Linked DNA regions of Homo sapiens: region 1 is linked to region 2. The links come from fine-mapping of genetic effects on gene expression. A gene starts in region 2. The other region holds a variant in brackets. All regions are shown on one strand. Distances are from middle to middle.

Region 1 (8,326 bases), 83 kb after region 2:
GGTGGGAGGCACTTCCCAGTTCCCTCCCACCACCCTAAAACTTTGTGCCTGGGCCAATTTGAGAGTATGATTTAAGGAAAAGACCAGTGAACTTCAAGTAATACCATGAAGTTCAAGACTAAAATCTGGAATAGAGACCTTAAAATATATCAGTAGAGAAAGTAGCAGTACCTCACAGTAAAATTCAAGGATTTTAGAACCGCAGAAAGCAGACCTTAAGAATCAGGGAGCCGAGGCAACCAGCTCGCTCAAGAGCGCACCGCCGATGAAACGCAGAGCCTGGTGGGGGCCGAGGCCCCGACCCAGCCCTAGGCGCGTTCCCAGCCTCTGGGCCATTGTGCCGCGCTGCCCGAGCGCACGATATGGACTCCGTTCCCGTCCCCGGCTCCGCCGCGGTCTCCTCAGTTCCGCCCCAGGCAGGAGGCAGCCCCGGGCTTCGGTTCCGCCCCGGGCAGGAGGCAGCCCCAGGCGCTGGGTTCGGAGGACCCGGCCGCCCGTGACCTTGGTGACTTACATAAGTCCCGCCGCGGGCCCGACGCCTCCGCCCGTGCCCCGCGGGCCGGGACAGCGGACAGAGGACGGCCGCCCCCCGATCACGGCCCCCAGCTCGGCCCCTGGCCCCTGCCCCGCCCGGCCCCCATCCTCCTGCCTGCCTTCCACGGACGCTTGGGGCCCGGAGGCCGCGCGCGGCCGGGCTGGGAGCTGTCCGCGAGGGTCCCGGGGCGGGGCGCGGCGCGGGGCTCACCTTCGGCCACGTCCTCGTCGATGGCCCCCTTGACCTGCGAGAAGCACCACTGGAAGTCGTTGCCGCCCGCGGGGCAGCCGCCGCCTCCGGCTCCTGCAAACACAACGGGGCGGTCAGGCCGGCCGCGGCCCCCGCCCGCCCCCGTGGTCCCCGCCGGCCCGCGCAGACCCCTCACCTGCCATGGCAGCCGGCGGCGGGACGGGCGGGGACCGCGGCAGACCAGGGAGACGGCCTCCGCGCCGCTGCAGCCGAGCGCTCAGCCCCGGGGCCGCCACCACCGCCGGCGCCGCCGCCGCCGCCGCCGCCGCCGGGGAGGGATTTTTTTCCCTTTTCAAAATGGCGCCCAATGCCCGTCGCCCCGCTCGATGACGTCATCGCCCTCCGCCTCCTCGGACGGGCAGCGGACGGGGCGGGCCGCGGGGGCTGCCGGGGGCGCCCAATGCGCCTGCGCCCGGCGCCGCTCGGCTGTAGGGGGGAAGGGACGCCTGGGCGACTGCGGAGGGAAGCCGGGGTCGCCGGGCGCAGGCCAGCTCCTCGGCCCTCGGCCCTAGGCCTCCCGCAGTGGTCCGGTGTGCACCCGGCGCTCCCCAGAAGACTAGCGCCGCCGGCCGCCCCTACTCTCCGGGGACTCCCGGAGAGCCTAAGCTGCGGCCGGACACGCCTTCAGGGCGCCGCTTGGCCGGACACGCCCCCATCCCGCATCGGCCAATGGAAACGTGGGTTCTCCGTGGAACCGCCAATGGAGGACGCGCTTGGCGGCGGTGGGCGGGCATGTGGGCCGGCCTCACCTGAGCGCGCCGTACCTGAGCGCTGCCTCCCGCCCACTGCCCCCGACGCGGAGTCTCGCTCTGTTCCCCGGGCTGGAGTGCGGGGGCGCGATCTCGACTCCCTAAAAGCCTCGACCTCCTGGGCTCAATCCATCCTACTGCTTCAGCCTCGGAAGTAGCTGCGAGCACAGGCACGCGCCGCCAGGCTCGCTGATTTTTAAATTTTTTGTAGAGACGGGGGTCTATGTTGCTCAGGCTGGTCTCGAACTCCTGGGCTCGAGCCATCTGCCGGCCTCGGTCTCCCAATCCTGTCCACCTCCCTTTCGGAGCGCACCGTTGCTCACCAGATGGCTACCTTAGGGGTTCTTGGAGCTCCCAGTGCAGTCTTAGGGAAACAGGGCCGATCGTTTCATTTGCGGGTGGTTTTCTCTGGCATACTGAGCGATCATGGGTGCTCCTCGACTTACAGTGGGGCTACCCTCCCCGCAAATAAGCCCTTCCTAAGTCAAAAATGCATCTAATACCCAATCTACCCGTCGTAAAGTTGAAAAATCTGAAGTCGAGCTATCATCAGGGGGACTGTCCCTATGGGATTGATGTCCGGAATCAGAACTTCTTTCAGGGTAGCTGCGGTGGGCACTGATGGTATTGCACCACTAAAAGACAGTCGCTGCAAATCAGGAACATTCGTCCACTCCATTAATATTATTTATTGACAGCTCCTGCCACGTGCGGCACACTCCACAGCCCTGGGGGTGAGAGGTTAACAGAGCAGAGAAATCTCAGCCCTGGTAGAGCTTACCTTTCAGTGGGGGAGACAGACAATAAGGAAATAAATACATAATAAGTCGGAGCTGGAGAGAAAAATCAGGGAAGAAGGAAATGTGTATGGGGAGAGTTGGAGTCTTGCACGGGGTGACTGGAGAAGACTCAAGGATAAAGAGCAAACCATGCAGACGTCTAGGAAAGCTTGGCCAGGAAGGGGAGACCACCAAGTGCCAGGACAGGAAGGAGGGCCATGCCTGGCATGGGCAGGAGGCAGCCAGAAGCTGCGTGGGTGCAGAGTGAGTGGAGGGGAGGCCAGGGGTTGGAGTCAAGGCAGGGAGGTAAGTGGAGGAGGATGGACAGTGGGCAGGCCATTTAGGGGACTTGGACTCTGAATGAGATGGGCTCATGAACAGAAGACGATCGTGATGGACTTGGGCTTTTGGATGCTCTGCTGAGAATAGCTTGTGGGGACCCAAAGAGGGGAAGCAGGGAGACCAATCAGGTGGCCAGCTGGGCTGACCAGGCATGGGGATGAGGATAGAGTGGTGAACATGGGGTGGGGTGGTGAGAACCAGTCAGATTTCAGAGAAAAGTGCTTCGACAGCAGAGCCCCTGGGATTTGCTGATGGAAAAGATGCGGTGTGAGAGAAAGCAGGGACTTAGGAATGCCTGCTCTCGGGTGGTCTGAGCACCTGGAAGGATGGAGTTTCTGCAGCAGAAGGCACAGCTGGGTGGGGGCGGTGCAGCCCGACCAGAGGTTCGCTGTCAACACATAGTGCTGTTGCACAGACAGGCTGGGAGCACACAGGGAAGTCAGAGCCAGAGCATCAAGGTGAGAGCATTTAGAGGTCATTTCAAGTCAGGAAACTGGGTGAGGTCACCTCAGGAGGGAGGACAGATGGGGGACAGGACCAAGGACAGAGCCCTGAAGGGGTGAGGACGTGGAGGATGAGTGAGCAGCCTGCGAGGTGGGCTCCTGGAGAACCCATCTCCAGGATCCACTGAAGACAGGAGGGAGTGGCTGCTCTGTGATGCTATGTGATGAGTATACAGGAGTGACCATTTGGTTGTAGGGACTGGGAGGCCATTACTGACTTGGACGGAGCGGTGGCTATGGAATGGACTCAGATCACAAGTTTGCAGAGGGCTCTGGGGACAGTGGCAGGAGAGGAACTAGAGGCAGTGAATACCTACTTCTCTGTTGAGGAGAAGAAGAGCAGAAAAATGGGGCTGTAATCTTGTTTTTAAAATGTAGATTTAGCCTATCTGCCCAGGAAGACACTTGAAAACCTGAATTAATGACCAGATCTCTTTTATTTGTTAACTTAAAAACCTGACAATTTATAAATTTAGAAAAAGAGGAACTTTATTTCTTATAAATGGTTACAGCCAGCAAGGTGGCCATCCCCCAGGCCAAGATGGGAGATGGCTCTTCGTAGGAGGAGGAGTTGGGGCAGGAGCTCTATGCTGAACGGGTTGGCTAAACATACATAGACAACAGGCTTTGGGAGGAGCTATGAATACTCAGGAAGGGG[C/G]TCCTGACACGTGTATTATGTAACATAGGACCCAATCTCACTCTGTCGGGGAGACTAAACATTTGAATATATTACGACTGTAATCCCAGCACTTTGGGAGGCCAAGTCTGGCAGGTTACCTGAGGTCAGGAGTTCGAGATCAGCCTGGCTAACATGGCGAAACCCCCTGTCTACTAAAAATACAAAAATTAGCTGGGCGTGGTGGCGCCCGTATGTCTGTAGTCCTAGCTACTTGGGAGGCTGAGACAGGAGAATCCCTCCAACCTGGGAAGCAGAGGTTGCAGTGAGCCGAGATCGTGCCGTTACACTCCAGCCTGGGCGACAGAGCGAGACTCCGTCTCTAAATAAATAAATAAATAAATAAATAAGTAAATTAGGACTAGGCCCTGTACCTCAAGAGGTCTTTTCAGGACAGGAAGGCATGCAGATGTGCAACCTCTGTAAACCGGCCAGAACCAGTCCAAGGTCGGTGGTTTCTTATCAGGAGACAGTTACAGTCTTCTGTCCAATGAAAGCTGTAGTTACGGCTGCTGGAGCAGGGCTGGGGGTCACTTAGTGGCTGGTGGAGCTGCAGTTGCTTAATGTTGCTCCTATCAAGGCCAGTGCTTATTTAGCTGCTGGAGGGAAGGAAAACCCAACAGCAGTGGGAACGACGTTTTCTCTGTAAGTGTGCGGTGCGTGGCTTCACCCTCCCCCCGCACGGCCTTAGGCCCTGTTTATGATTTGGCATCTTACTGCCACAGAGTCCGTTCTGTCAGTCTTATGGTCTCTAGTTTAACGTTAACGCTGGTCTGTTGTGTCCAAACCACAAAAGGGCGGGGGTATCAGGAGGCCTGTCTGACCTCCCATCCCCCATTATAGCCTCAGTGTTGAGGTTTTCCTGGGGCCCCCCCTGGCCACAGGGGTGTTCGTTCAGCCAGTGGGGGATGTAGGATTTTATTCTTAGTTCCTATGTAACTGCTTTAATGTGTGTTAAATATGTCTTTTGAAGTGATGACAAGATAATTAGTTTTTGTTTAGAATGTATTTTCTGGTTCATTAGCTCCCATTAAATTAAACTAAAAACAAGATATAGCCACAAAAGTAACATATTCCTGAGACTGGGGGGCTGCCTTCCCTGCGTCCCACTGTGCATCAGCTGACCAGCAAGAGATTTTTAACTATTTTTTAAAAAGAGATTTTTAACTATTCTTCTTATGATGCTAAAAACTTAAAATATTTGGCTAAACCACAATGACTTTTGCGCCAACCTAATAGCTCAATGAATTTCTCTGTTTGGATTCTAATTGGTGTTTACAAGTTTCTGAGTATTGACAGCAATTTTATTTTTTAAAATTGTTTTTCAGATCTCACAGCTGAATTGAAAATGCCTGGTGTGTATTAGAATCTAGCCTATTGTAATCATAGAAGGCAGTACTGTTCAGTAACTAAAAGGCATGAGCTACTACTGATACAAACAGCAGTCCCAAATGAGTCCCCGAAATATTACGAAAATGAAAGGAGCCAGACACGGAGGCGTGCAAGCTGCATGCGCCCCTTTATTTTATCATACTTAGTCTCATGTGTCAATGTAGCGAGGGTATAGTATGTAGTTATTTCATCAGAACTAAGCCAAGTATTGCCACGAGGGTGTTTCGTGGATGTGGTTAACACCCACAGGCAGTTGACTTTGAGAAAAGGAGATTACCCTTGATAATATGAGTGAGCCTCATCCAATCAATCAAAGGCCTTCAGAACAAATACTGAGGTTTCTTGGAGAACAAATTCTGCCTCCAGGCTGCTGTATCAGCCCTTGCCTGAGCTAGCCTGCCGGCCTGCCCTGCTCACCCTGTGCACCCTCTGTTTTTGAACTTGTCAGCCTCCACAATTGTGTGAGTGAGTTCCTGAAAATAAAGCTCATTCCATACACGGTTTCTCTGAAGAATCCTGAAGTTCTAGAACAGGTGAGACTGCTCTACAGTGATTTTAAAAATGGCACAGGGGCTGGGCGTGGTGGCTCACGCCTGTAATCCCAGCACTTTGGGAGGCCGAGGTGGGCAGATCACAAGGTCAGGAGTTTGAGACCAGCCTGACCAACATGGTGAAACCCCATCTCTACTAAAAACACAAAAATTAGCCAGGTGTGGTGGCGCACGCCTGTAATCCCAGCTACTCAGGAGGCTGAGGCAGGAGAATTGCTTTAACCTGGGAGGCGGAGGTTGCAGTGAGCCGAGATCGCGCCACTGCACTCCAGCCTGGTGACAGAGCAAGACTCCATCTCAAAAAAAACGGCATGGGGCACGAGTGTGGGGATTGACTGGAGAGGGTGGGGGATGGACTGGAGAGAGTGGGAAAGAACTCCCTGGGTTGATGGAAGTGTTCTGCATCCTGATGGCCGCAGCTGTTAATGCAGCACGAATGGTTGTCAAGACTCATTGAAAAAGACACTTAAAGTGGACCCATTTTATTGTATGTGAATGATACCTCAATAAAACAGATTTTTTTAAAGGATTGTTTTATTTTAATGGCTGATCTATGTAATCACGGAGGCCAGTATGTACGGACAACGGGGGAGCTTTTATTTTTTGGTATCTTCCTCCTTGGACAAAGTCTTGAAGATCTCCTCCTTCTTGACTTGGAGGCGCTCTTCACGGCGCTTGCGTGCTTCCTTGGTCTTAGACCTGCGAGCCTCAGCCTAGTCAGCCAGGAGCTTCTTGCAGGCCTTGTCTGCCTTCAGCCTGTGGCTGTGTTCCATGAGAATCCGCTTGTTCGTGAACATATTCCCCTTCACCTTCAGGTACAGGCTGTGATACATACGGCGATCAGGCTTCTTCGATTCACGGTATCTTCTGAGCAGCCAGCACGGAATCCTCATTCTCCTCATCCACGTGACCTCCTCTGGCATTCGGGCATTGGCTGTACCCTTTTGCTTACCTATGCCTATGTGCCTGCCCTTCCGGCGGGCCAAGGTGCTTTTCCGGCATCGAGCTGGAATGGACAGTCACTGGCTTGGGGATGATCAGCCCATCTTTGATCAGCTTCCAGATCTGCTGACGGGAGTTGGCATTAGCGAGTTCATTGGTCTCCTTGGGGTCCAGCCAGACCTTCTTCTTCCCACAGCGGAGGACACTAGCAGCGAGCCTCTTCTGAAGCCTGAGCGTGCTCATGGCTGCGGCCACAGCAGCAAAAGGAAAGAGCTCAAATGAATTATTTTAAAGTCTAACTTACCATAAATTTTCTTCAAGTCTATGAAGGACTTTATATCTTAAGAGTCTGCAAATCACACTTCCCCCAAATACCTTTATTTTAAAATATGTTTTATTTAATTTTCTTTTTTTAAATTATTATTATTATTTTACAGAGTCTCGCTCTGTTGCCAGGCTGGAGTGCAATGGCGTGATCTCAGCTCACTGCAACCTCCGACTCCTTGCTTTAAGCAATTCTCCTGCCTCAGCCTCCAGAGTAGCTGGGAACTACAGATGTGCACCACCACGCTCAGCTGATTTTTGTATTTTTAGTAGAGATAGGGTTTCACCATGTTGGCCAGGATGGTCTCTATCTCCTGACCTCGTGATCCACCCTTCTCAGCCTCCCAAAGTGCTGGGATTACAGGCGTGAGCCACCGGCCCGGCCTTTAATTTTTATTTTTTTTGAGACGAAGTCTCGCTCCGTCGCCCAGGCTGGAGTGCAGTGGCGCGATCTTGGCTCACTGCAACCTCTGCCTCTCAGGTTCAAGGGATTCTTCTGCCTCAGCCTCCCAAGCAGCTGGGATTACAGGTGTGTGTCACCACGTCCAGGTAATTTTTGTATTTTCATTAGAGACAGGGTTTTACCATGTTGGCCAGGCTGGTCTCAAACTCCTGATCTCAAGTGATCCATCTACCTCGGCCTCCCAAAGTGCTGGGATTACAGGCGTGAGCCACCGCACCTAGCCTAAAATAATTTTGATTTATTTAGATTTCAACTACTAAATATTATTTGAAAATACCAAATGTGGATTATTTTCAATTTCAGACTTAGTAACAATCTCAGTGTTATCATAGATGTAGCCTATTGGTAGGATGTGCAATCTTTCCATGGAAAACAAACCACATTTAGAAGCTTGCTAATAGGAGGCGGAGGCACCCTGTCTGCCCGGCTTGTGGGCTGGCTGGAAGAGCAATGGCAGGAGGACCTGCACTGAGACTCTGTGATTAGAGGGGCACGTGCTGGTTTGTGTCTCTGACTTTTGACACATGGCTGCCTCGTACTGCTGGAGCCCGGCAAGGCGTTAGATGTCATCCCATCATTCTTCTTTCCTCCTGCCAGAAAAGATCCGATCCTCATATTTTTGTCACATGCTGAAGGAAGGGAAGAAAGATGGGAAGAAATGAAGGAACAGAAAAAAGAAAGGGAGGTAGGAAGAGAGGGATGGACGGAAGGATGTGACTAGCCCTGTGTTGTGAATTGAGAAGGAAAACCCCACAGTCACCTGCTCCTGTCTCCTGGGCCTTTCTTCTCCGGCCTGGGGGCATTTGCCTGTCCCCTTTCTT
Region 2 (8,326 bases):
CCCAGTTCTTTCCTAAAAATGTAGATTGGAGGAGAACTCAACAATGTACTCAAAGGTCAGACAAATCTCTGCTTAGATGTTTTGAAGGGTTTGTAAAAACCTTTAAATAATATTCTGGAATGCCTGTTAGCCTCCAAGATCATTAGAATGACTCCTCATAAATTCTACTTTCCTCAGTGGCTTAAGTGAGGGTTTGGTTACCTAAGTTAAAAAGATACCAGCTTAACCGGGTGAATATACAAACCCACAAATTAGTAAGCTATGCAGATCAACTTCCTAAGACAATTCAGAAGGAAGAAAAAAACTAAGGTCTCAAAGATTATGAATTTGCAACTACAAGAACTGACTAACCAAATGAGGCCTTTTAAGAAAAGACAGGGCCTCCTTCTAATGACAAAAGGGCTGTTTGCTTCTACTGTAAAAAGCCTGGCCATTTCAAAAAAGATTGTAGAAAATTTAACAGCAGGACCAGTGAAAAACCAGGATCCCACATGATGAACAGGATTGCTCTGATGATCGAAGGGAGGTGTTCCTATTTCTACTAATGCCTTAGGAGAAATGGACATTGCCATAAATGAAGAACAGACACATGCCCTCAAAGACACTGGTGCCACTCTTTTCGTCCACTTTAAGTTGTCTCCTTCCTTGGAGTAATGGAACTGTACAAACGGTAGGGTTATCTCATCAGCCTATCACTGGATACAAGTCCAAGCCCTTAGAATCCCAGGGCCCTCATTCTTTTCTTCATTCCCCCACCTCTCAGACATCTCTTAGGCAGACATTTTGTGTTGGAACGTCACAATGCATGCTTTCCTTCTCCCAAAAGGAAGAAATGGATTTAGGTTTAGAATGGAAGGAGCAAATGGAAAAACTACAGAATGAGAAATTACTGAAATTATAAAAATACAGATCAAACAACTTTTTTTTCAACTGGCACTAATGACACGGATGGCTTAGGGCAAGCTTTGTCAGACCACTTATGGTCAGAGTCTTCCACCGACATTAGTAAAATATATTCAGCCACTTTCATTAAAGTGGAAGTAAACCTGATTAATCCTTTACCCAATATCAGACAATATCCTCTAAGGCCTGAAGCAAATGAAGGAATAAGATCCGTAACAAAAGACTATATTAAAAGGGGTCTAATTATTCCTTGCGCCAGCATGTAATACTCCAATCCTTCTTGTAAGGAAGCCGAATGGGAAGAGCTGGTATTCTGTACAAGATTTGAGAACCGTCATCAACACTGTGATCCCCAGACATCTGGTAGTACCAAAGCCCCATCCTCTTTCGGCAGCTGGAAGTGAGACACTGTGACTCATTTATGTAGTGCCTTCTTTAGTATTCCAGTGGACCTAGAGTCAGTATTTGTTTGCTTTTACTTGGGATGACTGCGAGCATATCTGGCCTATCAGGAAATATTGCTGATGAAACTGCTGCCTCCATCACAGCCCAACAAAAAGCTACTGACTCACTGGCTAAGGCTGCACTGGACGACTGCATTGCTTTCGATTATTAGCTGAGCAAGCAAGTCTATGTATGGTGGCAAATACCTCTTGATGTGCATAAACCCTTTCCACGAAGTAGAAACTCATATGGGAAAAAGTACAAGCCACTAGGCTACACTATTCTGAACAATTCTCCATTTGATTTTCTTCGTAATACTTTTAGTTGACTCCCTCGAATAGGTTCCGTTTTTCATTCTGGCATACACATTCTCTTTTTCATTGTAATCCTTATGTGCACCGTACTTGGTAACATTTTTGTTTTAATAGAGATGGAGTCTTTCTGTGTTGCCAGGTTGGTCTTGAACTATCAGGCTCAAGTGACCCTCCTGCCTTGGGCTCCCCAAATGCTGGGATTACACACAAGAACCACTGCCTGGCCAGCACTACAGTTCTACTATCGAAATTATTAATGCTATGCTATGTATCTCTGGCGGTTTTTTTTTTTTTTTTTTTGAGACAGGGTCTCACACTGTTGCCCAGGCTGGAGGGTAGTGGCCTGATCATGGCTCACTGTAGCCCCTACCTCCTGGGCTCAAGGAATCCTCCCACAGCAGGTGCCACCATACCCAGCTAAGTTTTTTGTATTTTTTTAGGGGAGAGAAAGCGTTTCGCCATATTGCCCAGACTGGTCTCCAACTCCTGGGCTCCAGCGATCCTCCTGCCTCGGCCTCCCAAAGTGCTGAGATGAAAGACATGCGCCCCACACTGGCCTCTGGATGTTTGTTACTCCTGAGAAAACTAAAATCATGGCACTCCAAAGACTAGAGACGATTCAACAGGCAAGAGCAGGGATGAAATGCACGCAGCGACTGAGGTCTGGCTTCGCGGCTCTGTGACCCCGGTTCAGCTTCTGAGCGCCTGGTTCCTTGGCGGGACGCCTCCTCCTTTCCCGCAAGACCAGACACGACTGTCTGGGAAGCAGCGTTTCTGGGGCGCACCTTGACACTTGGATTTGGATCAACAATGCTTTCAAGAAGAAAGACTTTTGATCAAAAGCGGGAAATGAGAAAGCGACTTTCCTCTGAAAAGTGCCTCCCAGTCCCGAGGCTGCGAGGCCCCCACGCCAGGCTGGCTCCCACGGAAGCCGGGCACCCACCCGGCCCGACCAAGCGCCACTCCGCCCCGTGGACGGGGCGTCCCACCCCGGGGACGCCCGCCCCACACCGCGTTTGCACCCCGGAGGCCCCTTGCCGCAGAGGCGGACGGCGCGCCTCTCCCGGGCCCCTGGGGTCCGCGCCTCCCTCGGGCAGACTCTTTCGACTCTGCTCGAGCCTCCGCTTCTTCCTGCGGGCGGACGCCCCGGACACAACGGGCCCCGCTGTTCACGCAGGGGCGCCCCGGCGGGGCGGGCAAAGACCCGGGGACGCGGTCCCGTCCCGAGACGCTCAGCTCCGGCCCACCGCTCGCAGCTCCCGCCCCGGGCGCAGGTCCCGACCCCACGGGCCGTCTCGGAGCCGCAGCGGCCGCTTCCCTGCACGTCCTCACGCCCCCCGCACGGACGCCGCCAGCCCCGCGCCTCAGTTTCCCCACTAGCAGGATGGAAAGACGGGCCCCGCCCCGAAGCGTAGCGGCGTCTCCGTGGTAGCCAGTGCCCAGAGAGTCCGCCGGTCCCACCGCCCCTTCAAAGGAGAACCCGGCCCACCGCCCGCCGCGGCGGCGACCGCGCAGCCCACTCGTCACGCGGCCCGCGGCGTCCAGCCCGGGCCGGCTCACCTCAGGCGGTCGCTGCCGCCCTCGCGCCTGCGCGCCCCTCGCCCCGCCCCTCTCCCCGCCCGCGTCCCGCGCACCGCAGGCCTCTGCCCCTCGCCCACCGCAGGACCCGCCCCGCGCACGCGCCGCACGTGCCACACGCACCCCACGCCCCTGCGCACGCGCAGGCCCCAAGTCGCGGCCAATGGGCGACGCGGCCGCAGATCCGCCCGGCCCCGCCCTGCCCTGTGAGTTCCTCCGGCCGGGCTGCGGGGCTCCGCTCAGTCCGGGAGCGCAGCTGGGCCGCGGCGCTCCGACCTCCGCTTTCCCACCGCCCGCAGCTGAAGCACATCCCGCAGCCCGGCGCGGACTCCGATCGCCGCAGTTGCCCTCTGGCGCCATGTCGCAGAACGGAGCGCCCGGGATGCAGGAGGAGAGCCTGCAGGGTGAGGCGGAGGAGGCGGCGCGGGAGCCGAGGGGGCGCGGGGGGGAAGCCTGGGGAAGGCCAAGAGGGCGCCAAGGGGAGGTTGCCGGGGAGGCCTAGGGGGCATCGCGGGCCGGGCGAGGCTGCGCCATCCTCCCCTTCCGTACCCACCCCTCCTGCGGGCATGCGGAGCCCGGGGCGTGGGGACCCCGCGTACTGCCCGGGGTTCGCGGCCTCGCCACTCGGGCGGGGGTTGGCTTGGACCCGGGTCGGACCGCACGGGAAAGCCCCGATTCTCCAGCTCCGCGCGAGCTAGAATTCCACCTGGAGGTGAATCTGCGTCTCGCAGTTGGACCGAACAGCCTCAAAGTCCACGTTGCCCTCCGCGGTCTGTAGTTCAGACCAGTATTGGTTTTAATGACCAAACACCAAGGCGTGGCAAGTGGCCTGTTATGAGCTTTAATTTTGTTATTAATGTTTATATCCATGGTGACTGTTAGGATTTCCTCAAGGGTGAACGCGGAGATGGGAGGGGGTTACAGCGTTTTTAAAATATGGCATTAAATGGGCATGTTCCAATTTCACTAGAGGGTCGTTCCAAAACAAAGCTTTAAATGACTTACGGGTTAAGAAAACACAAGCAAAAGGACGCTGCCCGTGCAGCACTCAGTCGTTACAGCCTGCCTAATGCCCGAGTAGAGGCTCGCTGTGTGCCCTTGGCTAGATTCGCAAGACCATCCGTTCACGCAGCGGGAAACGCAGGCCCGGGGTGCAGGACTTGCCCCACGCACAGCCGGGTGGCGTGGAGACCCACCCCACCCGGTGGGTCCGCGTCAGAGTCCAGACGAGCCTTTGCTCAGGGAAGCGGGCACTGAAGCCGCCTTCCCAGGGTCCCTAGGGCCAAAGCCTCGGAGGAGGGACCTGGTGGCAGCTGACCTTTGTGTTCTTTGAAGCCAGAGTTTACTAAGCAAAATTAGCATGTAAATAAGCTTGGGAAAGGACTGCTGAAACCTCTGACAGTGAACTTTTAATCTTCATTGAGAGTTTTTAAAACCATATATTCACATAAATTTAGTGAGTTGCTAATTTTATTACAAAAAAAAAGATTTTACTAGGCAGGACTTAGTTACCGTAATATATTGAATAATATATATATATACATATGAACACTACAAGCTTTTTTTTTTTACCTTTTTTTTTTTTTAAGAGACGGGGTCTCACTGTGTTGCCCAGGCTGGTCTGAACTGGGCTCAAGCGATCCTCCCGCCTCGGCCTCCCAAAGTGCTGGGATTATAGGCCTGAGCCACCAGGCGCGCCTGGCCTAAAACCATATTCTTTAAAATCCTGTAATTCGGATTTTTCCTCTTGAAATTTAAACATTGGCTAATTACTATTTTGAAATAGATTAAGAGGTGTTTTCCTATCTTTTGTCATAAAATAAAGTCCAAGGGATGTTTTTATAAACTCTTTGCCATAAAATCACCCATTTTCCGGTTGTGAAGCCGCGTTACTCCTGACATTGTGCGTTTCACTGTCCGGCTGGGATCTGGGCGCTGGGAGGTGGAGGGGGCTCCGGGGGGCTCGGTCCTCTCTCCAATATGTAACTTACACAGGCTGCTGAGTCATTGGCAGTGCAAGGCGGCCAGCGCCGGAGTTACGAGATTTTTGTTTTTCTGTTTTGTTTATTCTATAAAAAGATAGTTACCCGCGGGGTGGATCCCATGTAGGCGATTCCTTGGGCCGCCCTGAGTGTCCGCGCGGCAGGACGGGGCCACTGTGGGCTCGGCGTGGGCGGGGTTGGCCGGTCCCGCGGGCTCCAGCTGCCTGCAAATCCGGGACGGAGCGGTGGCTCAGGCAGCGCTCACCTCTGCCTGTCCGATTTCACTGCCCCTTGTTGACCTCGGAACAGAGAACAATGGGAGCCTTGCAGCCAGACCCACGGATGGAAGCAGCAAGCACTCTCTCCTCTGAGTGTACCCTCTGGGGCCAACTGCTTTTCCTAAAGAGTTAATGGCAAAATGGGCTGATTCTGTTCCTTTCTATCTCTTGATCATTCTAGCTAAAGTTGTTGACTCGCAGGATGCTCGTATTTGTCCTTTTCCTTTTTTTTACAAGCCCAGTCTTACTCCCCCAGGCTGGAGTGCAGTAGCACAATCATTATAGCTCACTGTAGCCATGAACTTGGCCCTTTTCTCCTAGACATGTCACTGCTAACATGCAGGAGAGGTAGGATTCTGTGACGAGACCGTGTCACGGTGGCGGGGGCATCACTTCCTTGAAGGACCCACTGTCTTCACCAGGAGGGCATCAGTTCAGTAAAGTGCATGCCCATTTACTCTGGAGGGCCGTGTTTAATAATCCAAGCCCTCACCTCTTCACCCACTGCTGTGTCTGCAACTGGCAGATGGTTCTCTCTCTTGTCAGAGGCAACTCACCATGGGCAAAGTTGTATGAGGGGAAAAGATGTTTTCTACTTATTTTGGAGTGGAGTTGTAGCATTGTGTGCTTTGAGACCTGAAGGGGTTGCAGACATCGAGATTCTCGTCCAAGACTTGCATTTCATAGATGGTCACAATGAGGTTCTAGAGGTGGAGTGAAAGATAAGGCTGGCAACAACACTTAAGGAGAAGCCAAGGTCTCTGCATGAGGCAGCAGTGGGATACCTGGAGCCCAGATGCCTGAGGCTGCGTGCAATAGGCCCTGGAGGGTCCTGGAGGAGAGGAGGCCAGAGGTCCTGGAGGCAACAGGAAGGTGGAGGGAAACGAGCCCCGTTGGAAGCCAGGGACCTGATTTACCTACCCAGCTGACTTGATACTTGAAATCTTTTGTCAGGCGGGTCTCTTTTGTTCTCTCCCCACTAACCTGAGAAGCTTTAAAGGTAAAACAGCAATTTCTTAGAGCCCACCTCCCCTGGGGAAGAAGCCCTTTGTATGGTTTTGGGGTGCTAGTTCCCTCGGGGGTTCACAGCTCCTCTGCTTCAGGTTTTTTTTCTGGGATGCTGCCTCCCTCTGTTCTGACATTTATCCCAGAGCTTTTTCAATCTATTTGCCTGGATTCCACCCCAGCATCCCAAATAGTCACTTTCAGAGTGGGCTGAGGCTAGGCTTTTGGAGAACAATGAAAAAACACCACAGGTGATTCTCCCTTCATAGCCAGAGTTGAGGTTGTCACCCCAGGTTAGGGCATAGGGTGGCCTTGAGAACTTGGCCCTGTGTTTACTCCACGTGGGGCTCGTGGCTGTGGCCCATGAATCCATGTTGAGGAATGGGACCCAGGGAGTTGCCCTGGGACATACAGAGGGCAGTGAATCGAAGGGATTCCCTGGAGTCTGTCACTGGAGGGAGAACTGCTTTGGGCACCTAGAAAAGCTGGATGTCAGATGATTTTTTTTTTTTTTTTTTACACAAAGTGAGAATAAGAAATGGATTAAGAACTCTTGTTGGACTGTATTTTGTCTCTGAGGCAGACCTATCAGTTTTCTTTTTGTACTGTGATATAAATATTTATAGTCTAGGCTTTTCAAAATCTCATCTACCTTGATATAGGAGGGAGGTAAGATTTACTGGCTGTGTGTCTTGTTAGCAATGTAAATTATAAGTGAGTGAGGAGGGGGAGGAACATGAGAGGGACGCGAAATGAGATTAGGAAGGAGGGCTTTTCTTGCAGCAGCAACAGCAGCACCTTTCCGTCTGGGGCCTAATTATACTACAGTGATTTGAAGTGTAAACTGCTTGTGATTATGAGCAAGTTTTCTAAGGTTATTAAGCAACCTTACTGTAAGCCCATCTTTCTTTGAAAAGGTGAACGATCCGAGTGGAGAACTGTAACACGTGAGTAGATACACAGCACGCTCCATTCTCCAGGAAGTGCCTTCCTTTCCTACGCGGTTGCTGTGGGTTAATAATAAAACTCCTGTCCCTTAGTAAATCATTCCTGGGAATACAGCTTTTGGGCCCAAAGTCATTAGCCATGGACAATCTGGAGTGAGTTTTTTTTCCTTGTTTCCTGGATTTTTAGGTCCTTTCTGGGGTGATGTTTAAAAAGCACTGCTTTGGTTCGAATGTGTTCCTCCATGTTGCCAGTGGGATGGTAGTAAAAGGTGGGCCTTTAAGAGGTGGCTCGGCCATAGGGGCTCCTCTCTAGTGAATGGGATTAGTGCTCTAAGGGGCTGGATGGAGGGAGGTGGGTCCCTCTGTAGCCTCATTGAAGGGATGAGGCAGGAAGGCCCTCAGCCGACACCAGATGTTGGTGCGTGGATCTTGGACTTCCCAGCCTCCAGAACAGAGATCAGTTTCTGTTCGTAAATCACTAAGTCTGTGGGATTCTGTTGCAGTAGCGCAGAGGATGACAGAGATACACTTGTCTCTCCTTCATCTTCCTCTCCCTGTTGTCTTCAGCCTGCCCCTTGTGTGATAGATTACAGTATGTGTTTGGTCTTGACCCTACCTACTTCCTGGTGCAGAGCACCTAAACCCCTGGGGCTTCCTGAGCAGTGTCTTTTTTTTTTGTTTGAGACACAGAGTTTCGCTATTGTTGCCCAGGCTGGGGGGCAGTGGCATGATCTCGGCTCACTGCAACCTCCCCCTCTCAGGTTCAAGGGATTCTTCTGCCTCAGCTTCCCGAGTAGCTGGGATTACAGGCGCCCACCACGCCCAGCTAATTTTGTATTTTTAGTAGAGACGGGGTTTCACCATGTTGGTCAGGC

The links.
Region 1: its variant is fine-mapped to the expression of BNIP3 in whole blood (INTERVAL, PIP above 0.99).

Annotation. Positions count from the first base shown.
Region 1 is chr10:131,893,750-131,902,075 of GRCh38, reverse strand. It overlaps PPP2R2D (protein phosphatase 2 regulatory subunit Bdelta), which reads right to left and starts at 1,068. Exons shown (of 9, transcript NM_018461.5): 1 at 921-1,068; 2 at 746-838. The coding sequence starts at 927. It also overlaps the pseudogene LOC100134362. RefSeq lists silencers at 259-308, 489-888, 959-1,468 and an enhancer at 1,709-1,808. The variant C/G (reference allele first, on the strand shown) is at 3,816.
Region 2 is chr10:131,977,078-131,985,403 of GRCh38, reverse strand. BNIP3 (BCL2 interacting protein 3) reads left to right here and starts at 3,481. Exons shown (of 6, transcript NM_004052.4): 1 at 3,481-3,643. The coding sequence starts at 3,598. RefSeq lists silencers at 2,811-2,930, 2,971-3,160, 3,211-3,510, 3,741-3,970 and an enhancer at 3,378-4,302.